6 separate regions of the Homo sapiens genome follow, and regions 1, 2, 3, 5 and 6 are each reported to be linked to region 4. The links are microRNA targets in miRTarBase. Many come from high-throughput screens and were not tested one by one. Region 4 holds a microRNA gene; each other region holds the end of a gene's coding sequence.

Region 1 (4,000 bases), not on the chromosome of region 4:
GAGTCATCAACCTAATAGGCCAGACACCCATCTCCCGCCTGGTGGCTCTGCTAGTCAGGGGACTTGGAACAGAGAAAGAGGACTCTTGCTTTGAGCTCCTCCACAGAGCTGTTGGACACTTTGAATTGAGGAAAAATGGCACCATGCCACGAGAGGTGGCCAGAGACCCGCAGCTATGTGAAAAACTGACTGTTCTGTGCTCAGCTCCAGGAACTCTAAAAACACTCGCTCGCTATGCCGTGCGCCGTAGCCTGGGACTCCAGTATCTCCCCGATGCAGTGAAGGGCCTTCCACTGCCAGCTTCTTTGAAGGAATACCTGTTACTTTTAGAATAGCCGGAGAAGATGTTTGCACCATCGTGCAGGCAGCTCTGGGTGAGGTTGTCCCTGCAGTACTCCTTGTCACAGAAAACAGAAAAACAGTTGTTCCTGTTGTGTGGTTTATAGATTTCGAAGCAACATGTCACAACAATAACCTCCATAGCACCTCCCCTTCCCAAACCAAACAACCCAACAAAAAAAATCCCTCACTTTTGTTTTCTGTTTATTGCTTACCTGGCTTTTTATATTGCATTTTGCAAAAGAAGAGGTCTCCCTCAATCCTCCCCTTTAGGGAAGGAGTCAACAGTGTAACTAAATTTCTCTAGGAAGATGGAAAGTACTTAAATAATGTGTGTGTGGTTTTCCTTTGGGGACGTGGTTAACGGTCCAGAAGAATCCCTTCTAGAAAGCATTTTAGGCCAGCCATGGTGGCTCACGTCTGTAATCCCAGGACTTTGGGAGGCTGAGGCAGGTGGATCACCTGAGGTCAGGAGTTCGAGCCCAGCCTGACCAATATGATGAAACCCCGTCTCTACTAAAAATACAAAAATTAGCTGGGCATGGTGGCATGCGCCTGTAATCCCAGCTACTCAGGAGGCTGAGACAGAAGAATCGCTTGAACCTGTGAGGCAGAGGTTGCAGTGAGCCAAGATCGCGCCATTGCACTCCAGCCTGGACAACAAGAGCAAAACTGTCTCAAAAAAAAAAAAAAAAAAAAAAAACCATTTTAATTGATCTGTGAAAAAACTTAAGAAAATCACAATTTCAGCTAACAGCAATTGTGTCCCAAAGATGAAGATACTATAACCTCAAATGGTGCAGATCCAGAACTGGGCTGGATGACATCCCTACTGTGCCATGTCCTGGGGCATTTGGAAGGGACTGGACCTCTTTCCCCTCATCAAAGGAAACAGCAGTCTTTGCCTCTTTCTGTTGGTTGTGCCCAAGGGCTACAGTAGCTCTGAAATAACAAGAGCTCTGTAATAACAGTAATAAATAGCTCTGAAATAACAGTCCTAAGAACTCCTAAAGTCCTGAGAACTTTTCTTGTAATGCAGCTTTTTCTCTTCCTGAGAAACAGTGTGTTCTAATGGGATTCCCAGGCAGTTCCTACACCTACGGTGTGTGTTCCAGCAGGGAGGAGTTATGGGCTGGGCTGCCTTTTCCCATGGGTCTTCATTCCCAATGGAAAGTTCACTCTGCTTAGTTTGGAATTATTTTTCTTTCAGTTGTTCTGGAACCTTTGCTTTTTATTGATTTATACAATACAATTGGTGGGAGGGTGGACTTGGGATGGGAGTGGGAAAAGCATGTAAGAGCTCCTTTTGTGATGGTCCATCTACCCAAAAGAGATCTGCTTTAGTGAACGATACTCTTTCATTTTTCTAAATTAGATCAAGTTGTTATTGATTTTAGATGACTTGTATGCAAATTTGAAAAACTTTTTTTTTTAAAGCTGATTGGGAACTACAAACAATGAATGGAATCTACTGACACAGCTAATTGGAAAACAGATGTCTTCTTCTGTCCTATTGATGCTGGTGTTTAAAAAACATCACTTAAAAAAAAAGAATAAATAGTTCTAAAAGCAAGTTTGGCAATTTCTACTTTTCCTACTTTTCTCCAACCCCCCTTAGAAAAAGTTCTTCGTTTACTGCCTGGCTGTTCTATGTAACTTTCCATCCCAACCTTTCTCCCATTAGCAGCAGTGATTCTGGGCATTGCTGGAGTGAACAGGAGGGCTTGGGCAGAGTATCTGAAGAGCTTCCCCTTCCTTTATACCTTCTCCCACCCCAAATTTGGAATTACTGCTTTTATGTTCTCAACTCCAGCTGCACATAAAATCACTAAGGAAGCTTTTTAAAAACACTGGTGCCAAGATTTCACCTCATACCAATTCTTTGGAATTTTCTGGGGTAGGACTGGGGGCTTCAGTGCTTCAAATATAGCCAGGAATGAGATTCCACTGTGTTAGTCAGTGGTTCTCAATCCTAGTTATTAATTAGAACCACCTAGGAAAATTTTTAAAAATACTAAAGCCCAGGCTCCACCCCCAGAGATTGATTTAATTGGTCCAAAGCAGACCTAGTAGGGCTGGCCACAGTGGCTCACGCCTGTAATCCTCACACTTTAGGAGGCCGAGGTGGGAGGATCATTTGAGACCAGGAGTTGAAGTCCCCATCTCTACAAAAAAATAAATGAATAAAGTAGACCTGGGCATGAGTACGTTCAAAGGTCCCAGGTGATTCTAATATTCTGGTAGATTTATAAACTGCTTGAGATGCTACTTCATTTCTCATCATAGATACTTAATATTCTAGAAAGAGAAAGTTTTGTCCATGTGGGAAAAAATGTTACCTGTTTCTCAGTTACTTCATAATCACTTATGTGGTTGGTGGCTAATAAATTCTGCTTCACCTCCACTTAAGAGTTCAAACACAATTTCACTTATCTTTTTAGCTCTGGGGAAATAGCATGCACCTTCATAGGTTTTTTTTGTTTGTTTTTAAGTGGTCTTCACTATGCCTTTTTTTCCCAGATCGTATCATCATCCTAAATTTTTTACTCTTTACAGAGTGACATTTTCCCTCTGATTAACTTTCCCTGAGCCATCCTTCCCTCTTCATTTTCTTGAGGAAACAGCTCTAAGATTAAAGACAGGAAAGAGACAGAGAACCTATAAATCAATGGCAATTAGCATTTAAAATGTTCTGAATGAATGCCTGAACCTTCCCTTTCACTTTGTTTTCATAGGCCTTATGGCTCTGGGGATTTGATATGGCATGATAAGGAAGCAGGAATGGGGAATGAGGATGAGGTTTGAAGTCAGAACTGAGTTTGAGTTCTACTTGAATAATATTGAAGGAGACATTATGTAATCAATCACCTTGAGCTCCAGTGTCCTCCTTTCTGAAGTCAGGCTGTCACCATTGCCCTCCAAAAGCTACTATGAGGATTCAATGATGAAATGCCTACCACAGTGCTTGATATTTATTGTTAATTTCTCTTCCCACTAAAGAACTGTGCAAAGAGTATTTGGCTGCCTTATTCCCTGACTCCAGCAACAAACCTTCTCAGTCACTATTTAGAACTGTTTTTAGAGTTTGGCAGTGACAATTTTTCAGACAGCCAGCAAGTAGTGTACTAGAGATAATCCCTTCCTCCACCCCCTGTGATACCCTTAACGTCTTTACTGCTTCATCAGACAAGTGTCTGATACATGGGGCTGACAGTATTACATTCCACTTAGGAAGATGATAACAGGAGAAGCAAAAGCACAGTGACCAGTTGGCATTTATTAGTGTAGTTACAATTTGTCACTGTAGTAAAAGTAGTAGAGGAACCAAGACTCTTTGTTATCACAAAGAAATAAATAAAGCTTATTTTTAGGAAAATTCTAACTGAGTAAGTGATATCTAGCAGTAGCACTAGAGGTGCCCAGCCTTGTGTGACAGATAAAGCTGGGGCAGAAGTCATGTTAAATTCTACCTAAAAGGAGCTCCCACCCACTGCCTGCTCCTCCAGCTCCTGGCCAGAACTGGTCATGGCTGCAAGGTACAGAATAAAAGGAAACCTAATGAAAAAAACAGCTAAAACACTGAGAAGATGTGGACTTATTAGGGTGTGAGCTGACCATGATCAGGTAATCTATTCCCCTCACTCCAGAGAGGTTTAGACGG
Region 2 (4,000 bases), not on the chromosome of region 4:
ATCACGAAACCAACTATACGCTACATCTAGTTGCGATTACTGGCAATGTCCCCAATGCAATCCCGGAAAACAAAGATTTGGTGTTTTCTACTTGGGATCACAAAGCAAAAGGACACTTCAACTGTCCAGAGGGTTATTCAGGTATCTTTTTCTGATACCAATACTTTATTTTCATATCTTCAAAGTATCTTCCCACATTATTAGCTATTATCTGCAATGACAACTTTTAAAAATCCGAATCCCAAATAAGCGTTTTCTCTCTAGACGAAAACCTCTTAACTATAATGAAAGTGTTCATTCTAGTTCAATCAGGTATTTTACCTCTAATCTTCCTCAGATTTTCTATTTTTTGGTAGTGTATAGATTATTTATACAGATTATTTAAAATTGGGACTTATACAGATTATTTAAAACTGGGATACATGCATCTAAAACACTGTAATATTTATAAGAAAGGAAGATAAACTTACGGGGAAATACAGTAACAGTAACTACATACGAGTCTGTACCCATTAAATTGCATATCTATCTCCTTTAGGAGGCTGGTGGTGGCATGATGAGTGTGGAGAAAACAACCTAAATGGTAAATATAACAAACCAAGAGCAAAATCTAAGCCAGAGAGGAGAAGAGGATTATCTTGGAAGTCTCAAAATGGAAGGTTATACTCTATAAAATCAACCAAAATGTTGATCCATCCAACAGATTCAGAAAGCTTTGAATGAACTGAGGCAAATTTAAAAGGCAATAATTTAAACATTAACCTCATTCCAAGTTAATGTGGTCTAATAATCTGGTATTAAATCCTTAAGAGAAAGCTTGAGAAATAGATTTTTTTTATCTTAAAGTCACTGTCTATTTAAGATTAAACATACAATCACATAACCTTAAAGAATACCGTTTACATTTCTCAATCAAAATTCTTATAATACTATTTGTTTTAAATTTTGTGATGTGGGAATCAATTTTAGATGGTCACAATCTAGATTATAATCAATAGGTGAACTTATTAAATAACTTTTCTAAATAAAAAATTTAGAGACTTTTATTTTAAAAGGCATCATATGAGCTAATATCACAACTTTCCCAGTTTAAAAAACTAGTACTCTTGTTAAAACTCTAAACTTGACTAAATACAGAGGACTGGTAATTGTACAGTTCTTAAATGTTGTAGTATTAATTTCAAAACTAAAAATCGTCAGCACAGAGTATGTGTAAAAATCTGTAATACAAATTTTTAAACTGATGCTTCATTTTGCTACAAAATAATTTGGAGTAAATGTTTGATATGATTTATTTATGAAACCTAATGAAGCAGAATTAAATACTGTATTAAAATAAGTTCGCTGTCTTTAAACAAATGGAGATGACTACTAAGTCACATTGACTTTAACATGAGGTATCACTATACCTTATTTGTTAAAATATATACTGTATACATTTTATATATTTTAACACTTAATACTATGAAAACAAATAATTGTAAAGGAATCTTGTCAGATTACAGTAAGAATGAACATATTTGTGGCATCGAGTTAAAGTTTATATTTCCCCTAAATATGCTGTGATTCTAATACATTCGTGTAGGTTTTCAAGTAGAAATAAACCTCGTAACAAGTTACTGAACGTTTAAACAGCCTGACAAGCATGTATATATGTTTAAAATTCAATAAACAAAGACCCAGTCCCTAAATTATAGAAATTTAAATTATTCTTGCATGTTTATCGACATCACAACAGATCCCTAAATCCCTAAATCCCTAAAGATTAGATACAAATTTTTTACCACAGTATCACTTGTCAGAATTTATTTTTAAATATGATTTTTTAAAACTGCCAGTAAGAAATTTTAAATTAAACCCATTTGTTAAAGGATATAGTGCCCAAGTTATATGGTGACCTACCTTTGTCAATACTTAGCATTATGTATTTCAAATTATCCAATATACATGTCATATATATTTTTATATGTCACATATATAAAAGATATGTATGATCTATGTGAATCCTAAGTAAATATTTTGTTCCAGAAAAGTACAAAATAATAAAGGTAAAAATAATCTATAATTTTCAGGACCACAGACTAAGCTGTCGAAATTAACGCTGATTTTTTTAGGGCCAGAATACCAAAATGGCTCCTCTCTTCCCCCAAAATTGGACAATTTCAAATGCAAAATAATTCATTATTTAATATATGAGTTGCTTCCTCTATTTGGTTTCCTTAAAAAAAAAAAAAACTCTCATAGGACATGTTTCATTTTGTTCCTTTCAGGAGTAGTAAATTAGACGTTTTCCCCATATAAAGCTTTTTTCTACCAGAAAGATACTTCTGGTAGAAGAAGAGAAAGGAGCTCTTTATGGTTCACACGACTGTCTCCTGTCCTAACTACTTTGCTTAAAGTGCTCAAATTCCATCACTACTCACAGTTGTCTAATCTAAGTCTAATCCCCTTTGATCTCTCAGACTACCTTCCCTTTTATCTCTCTACTACTTAATAATAAGAATATCTTTTTTTCAAACTTGACCTTCATTTTGCTTTCACAATACTATACTCTCCATGGATTATCCCTTATCTGAATCCATCTTTATAACCCTATTCCTTTCTCATATTTAGTACTGTGGGCCAATGGACAACCTTCAATCATCTTTTCTACACTGACCCTCAGACATTCTATCTGCTCTCACGGACTCCTTTATTTACCATGAATAAAGTTCCAAAATCTACATATTCATCCCAAGTCTCTTTCCAGTTCCCCTTCTTACATTGCCTATTTGCCATTTCTCCCTTCAATACCCTATACTTCACTCAAATTCAACATACCAAAAATAAAAGGCCAGGCACGGTGGCTCACACCTGTAATCCCAGGACTTTGGGAGGCTGAGGCAGGTGGATCACCTGAGGTCAGGAGTCTGACCAGCCTGACCAATATGGTGAAACCCCGTCTCTACCTAAAATACAAAAATTAGCCAGGCGTGGTGGCATGTGCCTACAGTCCCAGCTACTCAAGAGGCTGAGACAGGAGAATCGCTTGAACCCAGGAGGCGGAGGTTGCAGTGAGCTGAGATCACACCAATGCACTGGGTGACAGAACAAGACTGACTCAAAAAAAAATAAATAACAAATTCCCCAGCCCCTTACTGCTACTGCTATCCCTTTCTACCCACCTTTCCCTCCTTTATACTCTTTCACACCATCTTCCTCACTTCTTTATATCCATTAATATGACCAGCATGTTCCCAGTCACAGAAGCCTGGAACCCGGAAGACATCTCTGGCTTTTCACTCAACTTTGTAAACTACCTCTTTTGTATCATAAGCCACCAAGTTCAATACAATCTTCTCTTGAAACGTCTCTTAATCTTATAAGCTTTCTTCCCCAAAGACTGTCTTTAACTTCAGTGCTAGATTATATAAGTAGTCTCTTCTTTCCTCCTAATTTTACGTCCCTCTCCCTGTCAATCTTCCGAAAAGGAATTTGTAATGGCTGCATACTGCCTGGACCTGTGTCTTTCAAGCTCATCTACTGAAGAAGTGTAACAGCAGAGGATAATGAAAACAAATCCTTTTATTGTCTGGAGTTACAGGATAAAATAACTTACTATATGCACAAATTTCTTTCAGAATCTTATTGGGATCTTAGCTTAAATCTTAGAATTTTACTTTAAAATTGCATATGAATTGTGTTTTATACTTTATAAATCTATCTTCATGCCTGCAGTGGCTCACACCTGTAATCCAAGTATTTTGGGAGGCCGGGGCGGGAGTACTGCTTGAACCCAGGAGTCCAAGATCAGCCTGTGCAACACGGCAAAACTCCACCTCTACAAAAAATACAAAAATTAGCTGGGTGTGGTGGCAGGTGCCTGTAATCCCAACTACTTGGGAGGCTGAGGCAGGAGAATCGCTGGAGCCTGGGAAGTCAAGCCTGCAGCGAACCATGATCCTAACACTGCATTCTAGCCTGGGCAACAGAGTGAGACTCTGTCTCAAAAAAAATCTTC
Region 3 (4,113 bases), not on the chromosome of region 4:
CAAAGACTAGACCTCATACTTACTTAGTTATGATCCAGCCTTGGACTAAATTTACCAAAGGTTTTTACAAGTGCCTGCAAAACATAAATCTGTCTGGATGGAGGGAGGCAGAGGGACTGGGTAATGATGAGCCTCTGGGTGCAGGGAGAGGATAGGACTTGATGCTTTCCAGGGGAAATATTTAAAATTTCAGTACTAAGTTAAGTCTGTATCATTTTACTTTTTTTATAGTTTCTTATTTTATGTTGTATGAGATGAAAAGCTTGCACATAAAAGATGATAAGAAATTAGAATTCATCGTTTCTGTTGTACCAAGAAGAACCTTAGTGATCTCTAAAAGAATTGTTGTTAAAATATGGATTCTTCTTTCCTTCTAGTACTCCCCTAGCATGACAATGAGCGTGTGATCCATTACCAAGTCTCCTCATGAAAACCACAGTGAGTCAGCCCTTCACAGAACTACTACGGAAGAAAATTATTCATCACAGTGTACAGTTAAACAAAGGAATCTCAGTCACACCAAACCAACCTTTTTATTTCCTGCTCTCTCCCCTCTTTTGTGAAGAAAGCGGGTCCAAATGTGATTCAAACAACTGTACGGAGTGGCATATTAGAATTGCCCTAAACTGAACTGCAAATAATTATGTGTGTATGTATATGTGTGGGAAAGAGAATGTACTGTATATGTGTATGTTATACAGACATATACACATACATACATTGACCCACAGGACATTGTAAAATATTATCACATGACATCTTAAGTAGAAATAAGTAGGGACTTTTATTCCATCCTTTTTTTCACGTTTACATTTTAATTATTACAAGTTGCTCCTGCCCCCTCCCTGAACTATTTTGTGCTGTGTATATCACTGCTTTATATAAGTTATTTTTTAAGGTGAACTCAGATGTTATGGTTTTGTAAATGTCTGCAATCATGGATAGGAATAAAATCGCTTATTTGAGAGCTTTCATTAAATTGCGTCTGATGCAAGTTATCCTGTGAATCACAAAGTGTACTGTCTCAAAAAATAGAAGAAAATGTGTCTTCGTCTTTATGTTGAATCAAACAATTTCTCAGTTACCTTCAGTGAAAAGTATTTTTTTAATTTTTATTTGAGAAAAACACTTCAAATCAGTAAAAGCTTAACTGGGGCCTCACACAGTATATTTCTGCAATAACTGCTTTAAACGGAGTTCTTGATTTGTTTGTCTTAGATGATACAGAAATCATTAAATAGCCCAAATCATTTAGACCATAGCAATAAAGTGACCGGGGTTGTCATATATTTAGCAACATCTTTTCTCTTTAACATGATGAAGCCCAAAAGTGATAACAAAAGCATTTGCTTGAATTTGTCACTTCTCACCAGGAGTACTAGAGGTAAATTTTTAATAACATACTAATGTGAAATGGTATCTGGTTTTTATTCAGACTTTTTGTGAGCATATTCTTATAGACACTAGAAATAAATACATAGAAGGAGACTTTGAGCACAAGGGAGAAGAGAGTTATTAGCACTCCTGAGGCCTCTGGAATGCTGCTTTTCTATCCAGGTATCTTGCTTGCTACCAGCAGAATTGACTGGTATTGGTTCTCACTGGCCAGGGAGCCTCTGCTCTGTTCCTGGAATATAAGGCTTTTATTCAGGAGCAAATCATTGATAGTAACTTTGCTTTATCTAGCCATTGACTTCAGCAGGCTAAAACTACATTGTGTAACTGACTGTTCAAAAAAGAATAAGTAAATTTTTTTTAATCTAATTCCCTTATGGAAAGCACCTTGCTCTATGGCACTTTCCAGATCTTTTGGGATTTTGTGCTTAATTATACATACATACACCAAAATCACAATAGAAAGATATGAAGACTTTAATTTTAGACTCTGAAAGATAACTGGGTGATCCTTTGTGTTAAAATTGTGATACAAACAACCATTGATAAATACCAACTATGAATCCAAACTCTAGAGACTTTGAAAAGCATTGTTTAATTGCAGGTAAGAGGAATCTTCTCTTTCCTTTAGGCTTATAGTCTCTAAAGTGAAAATTTGGCAGGATATAGTCATGCAGCTCATAATGACATTCCAATCAACCACAGACTGCATATACAGCAGTGGTCCTATAAGATTATAATACCATATTTTTAGCATATCTTTTCTATGCTTAGATACACAAATACCATTGTATTACAGTTGCCTTTGGTATTCAGTACAGTAACATGCTGTACAGGTTTGTAGCCTAGGAGCAATAGTTTATATTATATAGCCTAGGTGTGTAGGAGCCTATACCATCTAGGTTTGTGTAAGTACACTCTATGATGTTCAGACAAGGACAATATTGCCTGACAATGCATTTCTCAGAATGTATACTTATCATTAAGTAACATATGACTGTATGTACTAGTTCCTGATGACTTACTTCTCTCAAATTCATAATGATTTAGTCCTTGTAAAAATAAAGATTTTGCCTGTGCCTAAACAGGGATACTAGGCAGAACTGTTGAGAAAAAAAAGCTGAATTAAATTTATGTTGCAGATTTAAACTATCATAAAATGAGCCTCAGTTAATCACACACAGTATTCAGGTGCCTAGGAGTGCACACCGGAGAACAGCCTCATGCTGTCAAGCTGCAGAAACCTTTCATGCAAATTCAGATGAAAAGGTCTTTACCTCAAGCCAGGGTAACCTGAATGAAGGTGATAGTTTGTCCAGACACCTGACTTTACCAAGAAGAATTTTGACTTTCATATTTTATGACAATCATATAAAAATTGACAGTCCTTTGATTATTAAGCTTAATCTTATAATGCTAGAATTTTCAAATATTTTGTTGACTCTTCTCCATTGTTACCGATCTTGAAATTCTTTTCTTCGCCTTCTGAGAAGGTATTATTTCTTATCACAAAGAATGATGAATATGATTTTATCTACCCTTATTTTGGGGGTAATACGAGAATATGAATTGCATCATGATCCCCATTATTTCTAACCTAAAAGTAAAATTCGTTTTTTTTTTCAAGGCAGAGCAGTCAATTGATTATAAGTATTTATTTCTTTTTTCTTCTTGGAGCCCAGATTAAAAAGAGTTATTTTAGATTTAAAAATTTCCTGAAATAGTTGAAAAATTATTTTTGAGGAGAAAATTGTATCCAAGAAACCCAGAATGTAAGGATACTTGATTTTTATATCCAGATAATTCTTTCATGCACTGAATGGAAGACAGTATATCTGTATATTAATTTTTGTTTAGATTTTGAATCATTTAACCCTTATCCTTTTTTCTTGTAATAAGACTATTTAATGTTTTTCTCTTGTGTTTTCCATCTTTATCAATGCATTCGTGTTGGTCTTGATGTATACTACCTGTTCCTAGTGTTATTTTTACACGTCATCTCACAGTAATAATATCAGCAATTCTTGCTGCATTGAACATATTAAATACACATGTAAAATGAAAAAGTAAGCAGTAGGTAAAATCTTGTTACTCTGCTTTGCATTCTGCCTAACTCACTGCATTTGAAAATACATGTCAAATTCTTTCTGAGGGTATGTATGATTCTTAACTACGTGTCTTACAGCAAAGTTGCCCATGGGAACAAAGGCTGTAGGGTGTCATTGATCTTGTAATACAACACATATTTGATGGGTGAATCTTATTAGCACTCCTTTGAAAATGTTCCAGTATGGAGTCAGTTGCTGATAAAGAGGAAGTTCACAGCTAGGAATCCGAAGTTAAGATTTCTCAATTGCCGCCTGGGCACTCATGCCTGTAATCCCAGCACTTGGGAGGCCAAGGTGGGCAGATCACCTGAGGTCGGGAGTTCAAGACCAGCCTGGCCAACCTGGTGAAACCCCCCCATCTCTACTAAAAATACAAAAATTAGCCAGGTATGGTGGTGGCTGCCTGTAATCCCAGCTACTCAAGAGGCTGAGGCGGGAGAATCACTTGAACCCAGGAGGCGGAGGTTGCAGTGAGCCGAGATTGTGCCACTGCACTCCAGCCTGGGTGACAGAGCAAGACTCCATCTCAAAAATAGAAAAGATTTCTCAATTGCCAAAAAGATTAACAAGTAAATCAATTCTGCTCCCCCAGCCATGAAAAGTGCCCAAA
Region 4 (4,137 bases):
AAAGAGATGTCCCTAGTCAACAAACATTTATTAAAAATGTATTGGGGTGGCCAGGCGTGTAGGCTCACACCTGTAATCCCATCACTTTGGGAGGCCGAGGTGGGTGGATCACCTGAGGCCAGGGGTTCAAGACCAGCCTGGCCAACATTGTGAAACCCCGTCCCTACTAAAAATACAAAAATTAGCCAGGAGAGGTGGCAGGCACCTGTGGTCCCAGCTACTCGGGAGGTTGAGGCAGAAGAATCACTTGAACCTGGGAGAAGGGGGTTGCAGTGAGTCAAGATCATGCCATTTCACTCCAGCCTGGGCAACAAGAGCAAAAACTCTGTCTAAAAAATAATAATAATTATATAAATATATTTTATATATATATACACACACACACACATATTTGTATTATATATTTATATATTACATATAAAATATATATACATATGTAGGCACTGAGGATACAGCAGTGGACAGTAATAACAGCAAAGATTTAAGATTCCTGACCTCAAGAAGCTTGCTTAATATCCATTGACAAGTAAACTGGAAAATACAGCAGGATAAGGTGAGGTCAGGATGCTTTGGGAATGTTCAGGAGGGGCATCTAATTCAGTTTTTGTAAGGTGAGAAAAGGCTTCCTAGAATACAATGACCACCTATTCTGAGCCTGAAGAGGTGAGGAGGAGACAATCTGTAAACAGGCAGTGATCCAGGTAGAAGGTAATACACTTATAGCCCTGGAGGCAGAGAGAACAGGAAACTTCAGAGAAACTGGCAAATAGTATGCGAGAGAAGTGACGAGAGATTAGGCTGGTAAGATATGCAGGAAGAGACCAAAAATGACCTTTGTATGTCATAGAGAAAGCTACAGTGTCAGATTATATCATCTTACATACTTCTTTAAATGTTTTAGTGGTTAAAACAGATTGCACTTCAAAAGGGAAAAAAAGCACACCCTCAAAGATTTCTGCTATAATCACGGGAAAAACTATAGAACTAGTAAACCCAGCAATTAAATACCTCTTAGATGCCTAGAAAACAGACTCTAGCCACAGAAAAACAAAATGATGCTATATCATCATTTGTGTTCATCAGTATTCAAATTCCAACCACACTTTAAGAACTACAGATTCGACTTCAGCTATATAACTTTCTCTGAGTAACTTGACCTACATAATTTTGTTCATATTCCAGATTCCTATAGTAGGTCTAATTTATTTAAAAATCACAAATTGCATATAAAATGTTATATTACTGCTAATTACTTTTTTAAATTGTGATTTCCTCTATTTACTAGACTATGAGCTTCTTCACAATACGGACAGGACACTTAAATGTTTTATATTCCCATCCCCATTCCTCAGGTTTCATGGCCAATGCACCATACCCAATGAATTTTAGATTAAAATGCTTTAGAAAAAAACATGATAACTTCACGAATCCTTATTTCCTCATAAGGTATACATCAAATTATCTTTTACATTTCTTTTGCTTCTAACATTTGATTTGTAGCATGCTTCTGATATTTAAAAAGATAGCCTTTTTTTCTTTTTTAAAAAACTATATCTATTCACATAACACAGACATATATGTTAGCTAGATGAGAATGCCAAGGGAGAGGGTAGAAGAGAAAAGCAGGAGGAGAGAGAAGGAAAAAAGGAGAGGACAAAAGAGAGGGAGGTAGGGAAAAGAAACACAGAACACTTTACCAATAAATCACAGGGAAGTTTTAAAAACATAGTAATATTACGTATGGAAGCATTACCCCTAACTCATCACAAAACCAAAGTTCTATCTTTCAATAATCAAACATCATGTAAATGCCAAAAGAAAACTCTGAGAGCAAATAATGAGCCATGAATATTTCAAATCTACTGAGTTTCAGCTGTGATCAAAAATTTAGTGCTATAACTTAGAAAGACTCCTTGGCAGAGTAGTTACAAGGAACCTCTCCTAATTCAAATATGAGTTTGATTCCAAGCTCTGACAGTTACTAGTGATCTTGACCAAGTTACTTAATCTCTCTGACTCTCAGGAAAATTTTAAATGTATAGATATATATTTTTTAAGTCATGGGGCTGGAAGTGTTAATGCTTCACATACATCTTTATGTAACACTTTACAACATCTCTAGGTAAAAATAAAATGTTAGCTATACAACCATTTTGAATCAAGACACATTTATTCCATATTCTGTCATGTCTACCTGAATCAAGATACGGTTTTTTTCCATATTCTGTCATTTCTACCAGAATCAGGACACATTTATTCCATATTCTGTCATTTCTACCAGATCATCCAACAAACATTAATGTATAAGGCACTGTACTAAGCACTGGGTATGAAAACAACAAAAAGAGAAGGTTCTGTCCACAAAGAGTTTAAAGTGGAGAAGAGTGGAAAAGACTCAGCAGCTAGGATAGAGGGTCCTGGACAGCGTGAGATGACAGATGGCTTCTCAGCTGTCAGGTTCATAGCTGACTGATTGAAGAAAGAGATGGCAGCCCTGGAGTGTTCCTGCACCATCTTCTCGTGGTCCATGGCAGTGGCGGAAGAGGAGCGGGCCCAGAGCGAGAGTGCGGGCCCCAGGAGGGGCCAGAGCAGAGGCCCACCCGGGGGCCGCTCCCCAGCACCGACGCCAGCATCATCGTCCTGTTCCTTTGTCCGATGGGCAGCTGCCAGAGCTGAGGACTGAAGTATACGGAGGCTTCCCTTTCTCTTTTTAAATTCTAGATATTAAGCATAGCCTTGGTCAAACACAGTTAATGGTGATGTTTATTTTATTAATAGAATAAGTCCTGAGGCTTTCACAAAATAATTTTGTTCTGCCAAAAATTAAGAATAAAAGTCTTTACGTAAAAGATGTGTGTGGTGGTGGTGGTGGAAGAGAGCTAGTTTTTATCTGTAAGACCAAGTTATCAGATTAACATGAACATTAAAGAAAAATTCCTCTTCTTAGTGCTATGTTGAACCATAATGATAACAATAATCAGAAACAAAAATAATTCAATTGTTGACTCTACAAGTATTTACTAGCTGCCCATGTGAATGACACTGTGTGCGACACTATGATAAAAATAGTAATAAAATAAGACAGAACTGCTTCAAGAAGTTCCTAATCTGATTGAAGAACAGTACAACAAGCAGGCAATGACAATCCCATCCAATTAGTACCTACAGCAGAATGGGAATGTAGAGGAGGGACCCCTAGTCAGTGTTTGTCATCCCTTTTCACTTCACACACACACAAAGAAGGATAATATTTGCATGGCCAAAGACCTGAGGCAACCTGGTTGCTAGGCCAGTTGAGGTCCTGCCCTATGGGGTGAAGGCATGAGTAGGAGAGTTTGAGAAGGGCCCAGTTAGACAAGGTCAACCACCCACACATCCCTCTGGCTTCTTAAAGTCTAGTAGCTACTGTATTCGACAGTTTAACACAGAACATTTCCATCACCACAGAAACTTCTATTGAATAAAACTATAATCTATAATTCCATTCACTAATTTAAAAATTCTGATATAATACAAAGATTTAGCAATAAATGTAAAAACGCATAATGATGGAATATAATTTAGTAACAAAAGGAATGAACAGCTGATAAATGCTACAACATGGATGAACCTTAATCATGCTAAATCTGAAAAAATCTAGTCACAAAAGACCAAACATTACATGCTTCTATTTATATGAAACATAGACAAAAGGCAAAACTTTAGAGACAAAAAACAGATCCGGATTGTCTAGGGATAGAGATGGGAGGAAAAAAATGACTGCAATCAGGCAGCAGGGATCTTTTTTGGGGTGACAGAAATGTGTTCTAAAACTGGATTGTGGTGATGGCTGCACAACTCCATATATTTATTAAAAATCATTGAATACTTAAAATAGGTAAATGTTATGGTATGTAAATTATACCTCAATAAAGCTGTGAAAACCATAGTACACCAAAAAAAGGAAGCTATTTGTGAAATGGACTTTTCAAAATTTTCCATTTTAGCACCACAAACATATACATATTGCCAGAAATAACGGAACCAAAGTGTCTTCTATAGTAGAATCCAGAGACCCATATAACTCTCTAGTGGCATCTAGTGATATAGGATAAGGCTTTCTTCAAAATGGTTTTATTTCTGAATTTTATACAGTAA
Region 5 (4,137 bases), not on the chromosome of region 4:
TCTTTGGTGAACAAGGCAGAGTGAGTAGAGGTTGGATGCCCACTTAGGTGACCCTGCGGGGACAGCCAGGCTACCCTAGCCAGCTCACCTCTGCACCTCCTGTCCTGGAGCAAACTAGAGAACAGTAACTCACTCAGCTGCGTTTCCCCTGCAGAGAAACGAGAGAACGTCATGTTTGTGCTGCCTCTGCATGGGGGCCACTTGGGCTTCTTTGAGGGCTCTGTGCTGTTCCCCGAGCCCCTGACATGGATGGATAAGCTGGTGGTGGAGTACGCCAACGCCATTTGCCAATGGGAGCGTAACAAGTTGCAGTGCTCTGACACGGAGCAGGTGGAGGCCGACCTGGAGTGAGGCCTCCGGACTCTGGCACGCTCCAGCAGCCCTCCTCTGGAAGCTGCGTCCCCTCACCCCCTGTTTCAGGTCTCCCATCTCCCTCAGTGACCTGGATCTGACCTCACACCATCAGCAGGGGGCACCCACCATGCACACCTGTCTCGGAGTAGGCAGCTCTTCCTGGGAGCTCCAGGCTATTTTTGTGCTTAGTTACTGGTTTTCTCCATTGCATTGTTAGGCATGGTGACAAGTGACAGAGTTCTTGCCCTCTGTCCAGTTTCAGCATCTGGTTGCTTTTAAGCCAAGTACATCTAGTTTCCCTATTAAAAATGTGTCTGAATAGCGATTTTGCTTTGCCACCAAAAGGCTTTTCCCTGAGAACAGTGAAGGATGTATGTCATTTTGTGGTGGTTGTATGTGTCCTTACATAGACCTTAAAAAGAGCTCACCCTTCCAGGCCAATGCTGAAGACACAGCTCCGCTTGGGAGCCTGAGAACCCAGGCTTCCCAGGCCAGAGTGTGGCTTCTTAAACGGCAAAGGAAATTCCTTTGAGTCACAAGCCAAGTTTTCGCCCTGTCTCCTGAGACCATTTCCCTACGCTTTGCTGCTGCTGAGAGTTACGTGAGGCACTTGTTAAAAATTCAGCCTCCCAGGTCCCTCCCCTCGGAGAGGCTGATTCACTGGGTCTGGGAAGGAGCCTGGGGATTTTAATTTTTCACAAGTGCCCCAGATGATTCTCATCACCAAGCAAATTTTGGAAATGCTGTTCAACAGCGCCCTTAAATTGGAAACATCTTTGCAGCTCGTTTTATTGAAATTCATAATCAGGGGTGTCCTCTAGCTCCCACGGTCTCCAGAGCAGCAAGGCCGGCTATGGAGCTGCCGTCGTGTGACCACAGTGTGATGTCTCAGAAGGGCTCTGGGTGGGCTGAGCATCTGGGCTGTGCCCTGGCTCTGCTTTTCACCCTGGACAAAGTCGCTGTGGACTTCAATTTCTTCACCTCTAAAATGGGGGACTTGGACCAGGTAGATTGCTGAGCTCACTACCAGGTTCAAAGTTCAATGACAAACTCAGTTTACTGAGGTTTGAGAGAACATCCCTCCAGGGGAGCCTGGGAGCTGCTCTCCCAGTCTAAGCATGTAGATATCATCGTTTGCCTTTTGTGTGTGTGTGTCCCTTATTTGATAAAAAGATGTTTTGAGTTGTTTTTTTTTTAAGCACTCACTTGTAATTTTAGTTTTTAAACCCAAGTCCCTCTAACTTTGCCTTTGATACCAAACAATTCAAAAGTTGGATCTGAGTTTGGAGAAAGATATTTCCAACCTAAGTGGGTATTATTTTGAAACCAGATTTTTAATTTAATAGCCTATATTTGTAGTCTGTTGGATAGGTGTTTCCAAAGTGTGTCTTCTCAAGTGAAAACGCAACTCTAGGTTTCAAGTACTCCTTTTCTCCGATCCTGTGGTACTTGAATATCCAAAAACCCTGCACTTTGAACAATCAGCTGTTGCTATCTGGAACTAAACAGAACTATGAGTAAAATTGCCTGGATACTTTAAAAAGATATTTTTCCTCCTTCATCTCCTTTGACTCCAGGACAGACTGGAATATAAGTAGTGGGTCTGCATGGATGTTTCAGGGATCAAAGGAGCCACCTGGGCGCCTGAGTGCCAACCCTCAGGGCCACAGGTGGGTGTGGTTTGGGCACGGGTCCAAGTGACTGTGACGGGACCCGTGGGCATGGGTCCAGGTCTGTAACCTGAAGAAGTTGTTTTCTGACAATCACCAAATCATCCGAATGACATCAAAAGCAGCCCTTATCTCAGAGACTGAGATTTCTGTGGTCTCAACTTCGCTTTGGTATAATTTCTGGCACTCACCAGCCTCTATCATTATGACTTTCCCCCCAGTGTATTATTTCTCTAATAGGTTTCCTTTTCACGTTCTTTTAGCACAGACTGGCACTTTACCCTCTCAGTTTGGAAGTTAGCCCCTCTCCTCTGTTACTTTTCCCTTCACCCAACTACAGCTGTGATCTAGAACATTCATAGTCATATTTCTGCTACTACTACCTTCATTTATCAAGACTTTTTATGAGAATAGGTAAACCAAGCAATAACTTCCTAGGACTGAATCACCACCCCAGAAGAGCGAGAGGCTCCTTTCATATGCCTGAGGCCACACCCCTTAACCTGTTCTGACAAAATAGTGGCTGGCCCATGTACCAGCTCCATTCAGAAATTCAGGAAGAGAAAAGACAGCCCTGTTGTCACACAAACCGGTGTGGGGGAGGGTGGAGCCTGGTCTGCACGGCAGTCCTGGTGGCCCCTGTGGAGGACAGGCAGGGCTGGCAGCATAGCCTTTGTTGCCACACAACCGGAATTTGCTCCCCCAGGACTGTGGGAGCCAGTGTCCCAGCTGAAATCTTTTTAGTGTGTGGCTCTGAATGGCACTCACATTCCATTTTGGCTCACATGAAACTAACTGAAGCCCTTTGTTCAAGCTTCAGGCTCTTAGGCATGGAAATGAGAATGTGACTGTGGCTGTCTTACAGGAAAATTCTTGTTTGTCCCTGAATGAGAGCACAGAGGCATTGAATTCACAGAGCTGCAAACTTGCCTGATAAATGAGGGAGTGGCAGTTTATAGATAGGTCATCTTTTTTCCTTCCTCCAGGTGTCCTTGCCTTTCTTCCCAAAGTCATTCATTTCTGATGAGTATATGAATCCCCCTCTTGCTAGTAAGGTTCTATTTGGGCTAAAACAAGGCTGAATTTTTAAAGAGTATTTGAATATATTTTAGAATCAAATTGAGGCTATAAATTGCATCAATCTGGACAATTCCATTGCAGGAATAATATGTTAAAAACCAATGGGGAGAAGCACCCACATCTCTCCTGTAGCACTCCGTGTCTCATAAGCAATTTGAAGACACTTACAAGTAACTGATTCCAGTCAAATTAGGATTAACTGACTCAAAAAATGGTGTCAAGTTTCTTTAATGTTTTTATGTTAGAAGTGAGTTTAACAGACTTGAAGAAAACTGTTATCTTTTCCTGCTGTGAGTTTACACAAATGATTCCAGAGCAGAATGAAAGCAGAAAGCTGTTGGTTACAATATTCTTTTAACCTCTCTGCAGCATTTTACACTTACTGGGAACCTTATGATTCACCGTAAGAGTGGAAATATACCTGAGTTCGTGTCCTAATGGTCTCTAATTCACATTGGATCGTGGGCAAATCACCTCACCTCTCTGAGCCTGTTCCCTCCTCTTAGACCATCTCTAAGACCACTTCATCTATTTACACATCATTTGCTTGAACATTGCTGAACATCTGCGTGAACTTGGCCTCTCCAGCCCTTGCAGGTGGAAACAGCTGTGTCAAGGCTCAAGGCTCACGCTGAGGGGACTTGGAGGGAGGGGGCTTCTGCATTAAGCTTTCCTGGTGAAGACCCTTGATCTTGTCCAAAGCCCTGTGTCTTTGACTGGCTTCTCTTCAGAGTCCCCGTTGTCATCGTAAGACCCTTGCTGTTTGGAGGGTGGTCTTGTGACTGTGGCAGCTGCTGGCCGCTGGAATGAGGAGCCTATCTCCATCCTCCAGTGTGACTCAGGCAGAGCATTGAGAATTCCCAGGGCAGAAATCCTTCCTGCTCAGGCTTTCATTCTAAAACTACAGTCTTCATTAAAGCTGAACTTTCTGGGTAGCTGAGCTTATATGCCCGGCATCTGAATGAGAGCTCTCTTTGTAACTGTGTGACTTGAGATCTAGTTTGCCAGCTCCTGGGAAACAATACATGTGTTC
Region 6 (4,137 bases), not on the chromosome of region 4:
CATGTAAAAGTTTGCCTTTCTGTAAAGGAAATAATGCATTAGGTAATGCTGTTAAACAACATAGTGGTTAAGACTCTAGATGCTAGTGTAAGACTGGCCATATTCAAAATCTGGCTCAATTGCTCACTGATAATGTAAACTTAGACAAACTACTTAATATCTTTAAACCTTAGCTTTTTTGTCCATAGAACAAGGATAATATCAGTACCTATCTCATTCAGTTGCTGCAAGATGGTGTTTAGAAGAATAATAAAATTTTAATAAAAGCTTAGTTGTCTTATAACTAAAATCTATTGGAAAAACTCATGCCTGTAATCCTAACACTTTGGGAGGCCAAGGCAGGCAGATCATTTGAGGCCAGGAGTTGGAGACCAGCCTGTCCAACATGGCAAAACCTCATTTCTACTAAAAAATACAAAAATTAGCTGAGCATGGTGACAAGTGCCTGTAGTCCCAGCTACTCAGGAGGTTGAAGCACAAGTATCACTTGAACCTGGGAGGCAGAGGTTGCAGTGAGTCAAGATTGTGCCACTGTACTCTGGCCTGGGTGACAGAGTGAGACTCAGTTTCAAAAAAAAAAAAAAATCTATTGTTTTTAAAAATGCATTGACCAAGTTAGAGAAATAGTTATATAAGGTAAGTTGTGTGAATGTATGTTTTTACATTTATTTTGTAATATAAAGAAGGCTGTGTACTTGTATAATGCATTCATTTCTAAAAGAAATAACTGAATTTCATATTTTCAGAAAGACATTATGATGAATAATTTATAAAATTTTATTTATTAAATATTTAGCTTTGTTAGATACAATTTTTCTTACCAGGCTTTGATTGCAGTAGTAAGGGAACGTTTACTAAAAAGCCGTTGTTGTCTCACATATGTCCTTATGCTGATGTGTCATTTGTAAATGGAGACACTGGATCTTTAATGCTTTTTCCCCCTCAAGGAGAGTTCCTACCAAGTAGAAAATAAAACTGGTTTGCTGATAGTTTTTTTAAATTTACCTATTCTATGCATTGTTCCAGAATGGATATGAAACTTTCATTATTGAGTTAGGCTGATTTCATTACCAGTCAATTCAGTGAAGAAAGAAAGGCCAATCAAATCACATGCTATCTTGATAAAACAACTAATATTATCCATCTACCTACCTATCTATATTATTTTACAATTTCACTTCATGTATTTTATAGGAGCTTACACTGTTCGAAAACATGTTCTGACTTGTGTTTATATACACTTTTTTTTTGGGGGGACGGAGTCTCACTCTGTCGCCCAGGCTGGAGTGCAGTGGCACGATCTCAGCTCACTGCAAGCTCCACCTCCTGGGTTCACGCCATTCTCCTGCCTCAGCCTCCCAAATAGCTGGGACTAGAGGCGCCTGCCACCACGCCCAGCTAATTTTTTTTTTTTTTTTTTTTGTATTTTTAGTAGAGACGAGGTTTCACCGTATTAGCCAGGATGGTCTTGATCTCCTGACCTCGTGATAAGCCCGCCTCCGCCTCCCAAAGTGCTGGGATTACAGGCGTGAGCCACCGCACCCAGCCGTGTTTATATACACTTTAAGACACTGAATTGTGACTACCTCAAAATTGTTTGGTCCAGCCCAGTAACACTTATTTACACAGATTAGATACCAGACACTGTTTTGGGTGTGGTCTTTCAGCCCAGTAACACTTACTAAACACAGATTAGATACCAGATACTGTTCTGGGTGTGGTCTCCAGAAACAGATCAGGGACCTCCAAGGATATATTTTAATGAAATAATGTCACTTTTATTCATAAAATGATATCTCCCAGATTGCCTGTGTGGTATGGTGTCTCTCAAACATTTCCCCACAATACTTTGTATGGCACCCTATACTTCTCTGTAGCAGGCTTCACATTTATAAATAATTACTTGTTTATAGCAATCACACCTTTGTTAGAGCACAAGTTCCAAGAAGATAAGTCCATTTTATTCATTACTGTATGCCCAGATCTTAATAATGGCTGGCACTTAGCAGGCTTTGAATACATTTTTATAACATGAAAGACTTTCTGACATTACCTCTGATGGCAATATGAGTCACATACCTCTTAAGTTATGGGGCATAATCCAAAGCTGTCTCCTCTAACAATCAGAAAATACCTTTGAAGTTCCCTGTTTTATTTACTTTTAAAATGTATGATACTTTTAAATTCTCATCCATTATGTTTCTTTTAATGTGTGTTTTGTTATTCTTAAAAATGGATACTTTAGGAAATGTATCATGGTTTTAAGGATACATCTGTGTGTGGCATATGGGCTTTGGAATTGGAACTCTTGAAAATCTGCCTTGATTTTTAGCAAATATCTTAAACTTGAGTTAGCAGCTGAAAAATGGGGCTGAGAATATTTACCTTGAAGGCTTTTGTTGTTGTTTTTTAAGAGAGTAAAATGAAATGTGCTTAAAGTTCTTGGTTTTTGTTTGTTTGTTTGAGACAGAGTCTCACTCTGTGGTTCCATGGTGGAGTTCAGTGGCATCATCTTAGCTCACTGCAGCCTTGAATTTCTGGGCTCGAGTGATCCTCCTACCTCAGCCTCCCAAATAGCTGGGACTACAGGTGCATGCCGCCATGCAGCTAATTTTTAAATTTTTTTTGTAAAGACAGGATCTCACTATGTTGCCCAGGCTGGTCTCAAACTCCTGGACTCAAGTGATCTTCCCGCCTTGGCCTCCCAAAATGCTAGGATTACAGGCATTAGTCACCAGTCCCAGCCTGAAATGTACTTAAAGTTATTAGCATACATAATATACCCTCAAATATTGTTCCCTTTTCCTTTTTTTTTTTTTTTTTTTTTTTTCGAGACAGGGTCTTGCTCTGTCACCCAGGCTAGAGTGCAGTAGTGCAATCATAGCTCACTGCAGACTCGAAATTCTAGATTCAAATGACCCTCTTGAGTAACTAGAACTACAGATGTGGGCACCCACAACCTGCTAATTTTTTAATTTTTTTGTAAAGAGGGGGTCTCACTATGTTGCCCAGGCTGGTCCCTTTTTCCTTCTTACTAGAAAATTTCTAGCTCCCTTCCAAGAATCTCAGCTTATACCTGGTTCTTTCAATATGTGGTTAATAACTGTCAACTAAGGACTGAAAGTATTTTCAATCCTTGAGCCATGCCTATGGCTCTTCATCTGGGGGACAGAACTCTTTAACTGAGTATAATGAACACCTCATAGATTACATTTTCTAGGCAAAATTTTTAACCAATGCCAACAATGTCCACAGAGAAAAATTAGATTGAATTAACTTTTATTACTACTTGTTTAACACAGATTTACTTGTCTTAGACAAGTAAGAATTTATAGAATCTATGCTCTATTGCACTATATAGAAACTAGAAATGCAGTTATACTGATGTAGTGCAGTTTGTGGGAAATCAGGAATGGTGTTCTCCAGAATACATGAAGATTCTCATTGATTGTTGCAAGGAATCACGAAAGAGATCTTTGGTCCAAAGAAAACGTCTCTGAAAGAAAATAGAGCATCAATTAAATTCACCTTAAGGCTAAGATATTAGTTAGTCTATTCTAGGTTAAAAATAGACAGTGATTTCCAGGATTTCAGTTATGATTATTCTTTTTAGGTGACTAAAATGTAAAGAGATGAGTGGGAGGACTTGCCACAGAAGCAACAAAGACCGAGAAGGTAATCGATTTGTCTACTTTCCCCGCATTTGCCATTGATATCATGCTGTCATTTACGAAGAAAAAGAAATATTAGGTAATTTCAAAACTTTATGGTCATGTATACAATTTCATGTCTCTTATATGAGGATAGGCCATGAAGTTTAAATCTGCAGTTAGGAAACAGAAGATTCAACATTTCTTGTTTATTAAATAAATTTCTAGGTTTTATGGGGAAAGGAGAAATGTTACAAAGCTACTTAACTTTCCCTGGTTGAAAAGATCACATAAAGTAATATATAAAAATGCATGGAATAATACAAAATTATATACAAATGCAAGGTGATATTATAATTATGGCTTATTAGAAATATACTTAGCAGTATTTCTCTTTGATTTTCCCAAAATCAAGTATACCCACACTGCTGTTCTCATCCCTTAACAGACATAATCACAAAATTATATCATAATATAAATGTAAGTC

Evidence for each region. Region 4 holds the annotated microRNA hsa-miR-1343-3p (CUCCUGGGGCCCGCACUCUCGC, at 2,559-2,580, opposite strand). A microRNA usually pairs through its seed, bases 2 to 8, with sites in the 3' UTR of a target mRNA and lowers its output. Matches are read on the target gene's strand: a 7mer-m8 pairs with bases 2 to 8, a 7mer-A1 pairs with bases 2 to 7 and ends in A, and an 8mer does both.
Region 1: the mRNA of ASB8 is a reported target of hsa-miR-1343-3p. Seed matches in the 3' UTR shown: 7mer-m8 at 767-773.
Region 2: miRTarBase lists ANGPTL3 as a target of hsa-miR-1343-3p. The part of its 3' UTR that is shown has no 7-base or 8-base seed match.
Region 3: the mRNA of SSBP2 is a reported target of hsa-miR-1343-3p. Seed matches in the 3' UTR shown: 7mer-m8 at 3,954-3,960.
Region 5: miRTarBase lists ABHD2 as a target of hsa-miR-1343-3p. Seed matches in the 3' UTR shown: 7mer-m8 at 2,726-2,732.
Region 6: miRTarBase lists SCRG1 as a target of hsa-miR-1343-3p. Seed matches in the 3' UTR shown: 7mer-m8 at 1,325-1,331.

The regions. Positions count from the first base shown.
Region 1 is chr12:48,145,701-48,149,700 of GRCh38, reverse strand. ASB8 (ankyrin repeat and SOCS box containing 8) reads left to right here. Exons shown (of 4, transcript NM_024095.5): 4 at 1-1,912. The coding sequence ends at 335. PFKM (phosphofructokinase, muscle) reads right to left here. Exons shown (of 23, transcript NM_000289.6): 23 at 3,297-4,000. The coding sequence ends at 3,993. Among named protein-coding and RNA genes, the nearest start is that of ASB8, 9.8 kb to the left of the region's middle.
Region 2 is chr1:62,604,095-62,608,094 of GRCh38, forward strand. It overlaps ANGPTL3 (angiopoietin like 3), which reads left to right. Exons shown (of 7, transcript NM_014495.4): 6 at 1-141; 7 at 539-2,219. The coding sequence ends at 723. The region is part of intron 14 of DOCK7 (dedicator of cytokinesis 7); the gene reads right to left. Among named protein-coding and RNA genes, the nearest start is that of ANGPTL3, 8.6 kb to the left of the region's middle.
Region 3 is chr5:81,416,798-81,420,910 of GRCh38, reverse strand. SSBP2 (single stranded DNA binding protein 2) reads left to right here. Exons shown (of 17, transcript NM_001256732.3): 17 at 378-4,113. The coding sequence ends at 407. Among named protein-coding and RNA genes, the nearest start is that of ACOT12, 25 kb to the right of the region's middle.
Region 4 is chr11:34,940,331-34,944,467 of GRCh38, reverse strand. It overlaps MIR1343 (microRNA 1343), which reads right to left and starts at 2,631; the gene lies at 2,548-2,631. The region is part of intron 2 of PDHX (pyruvate dehydrogenase complex component X); the gene reads right to left.
Region 5 is chr15:89,195,073-89,199,209 of GRCh38, forward strand. It overlaps ABHD2 (abhydrolase domain containing 2, acylglycerol lipase), which reads left to right. Exons shown (of 11, transcript NM_152924.5): 11 at 155-4,137. The coding sequence ends at 351. It also overlaps the pseudogene LOC124903574. Among named protein-coding and RNA genes, the nearest start is that of RLBP1, 24 kb to the right of the region's middle. RefSeq lists enhancers at 1-299, 300-800 and a silencer at 2,566-2,860.
Region 6 is chr4:173,384,900-173,389,036 of GRCh38, forward strand. It overlaps SCRG1 (stimulator of chondrogenesis 1), which reads right to left. Exons shown (of 3, transcript NM_007281.4): 3 at 1-3,496. The coding sequence ends at 3,442. Among named protein-coding and RNA genes, the nearest start is that of SCRG1, 12 kb to the right of the region's middle.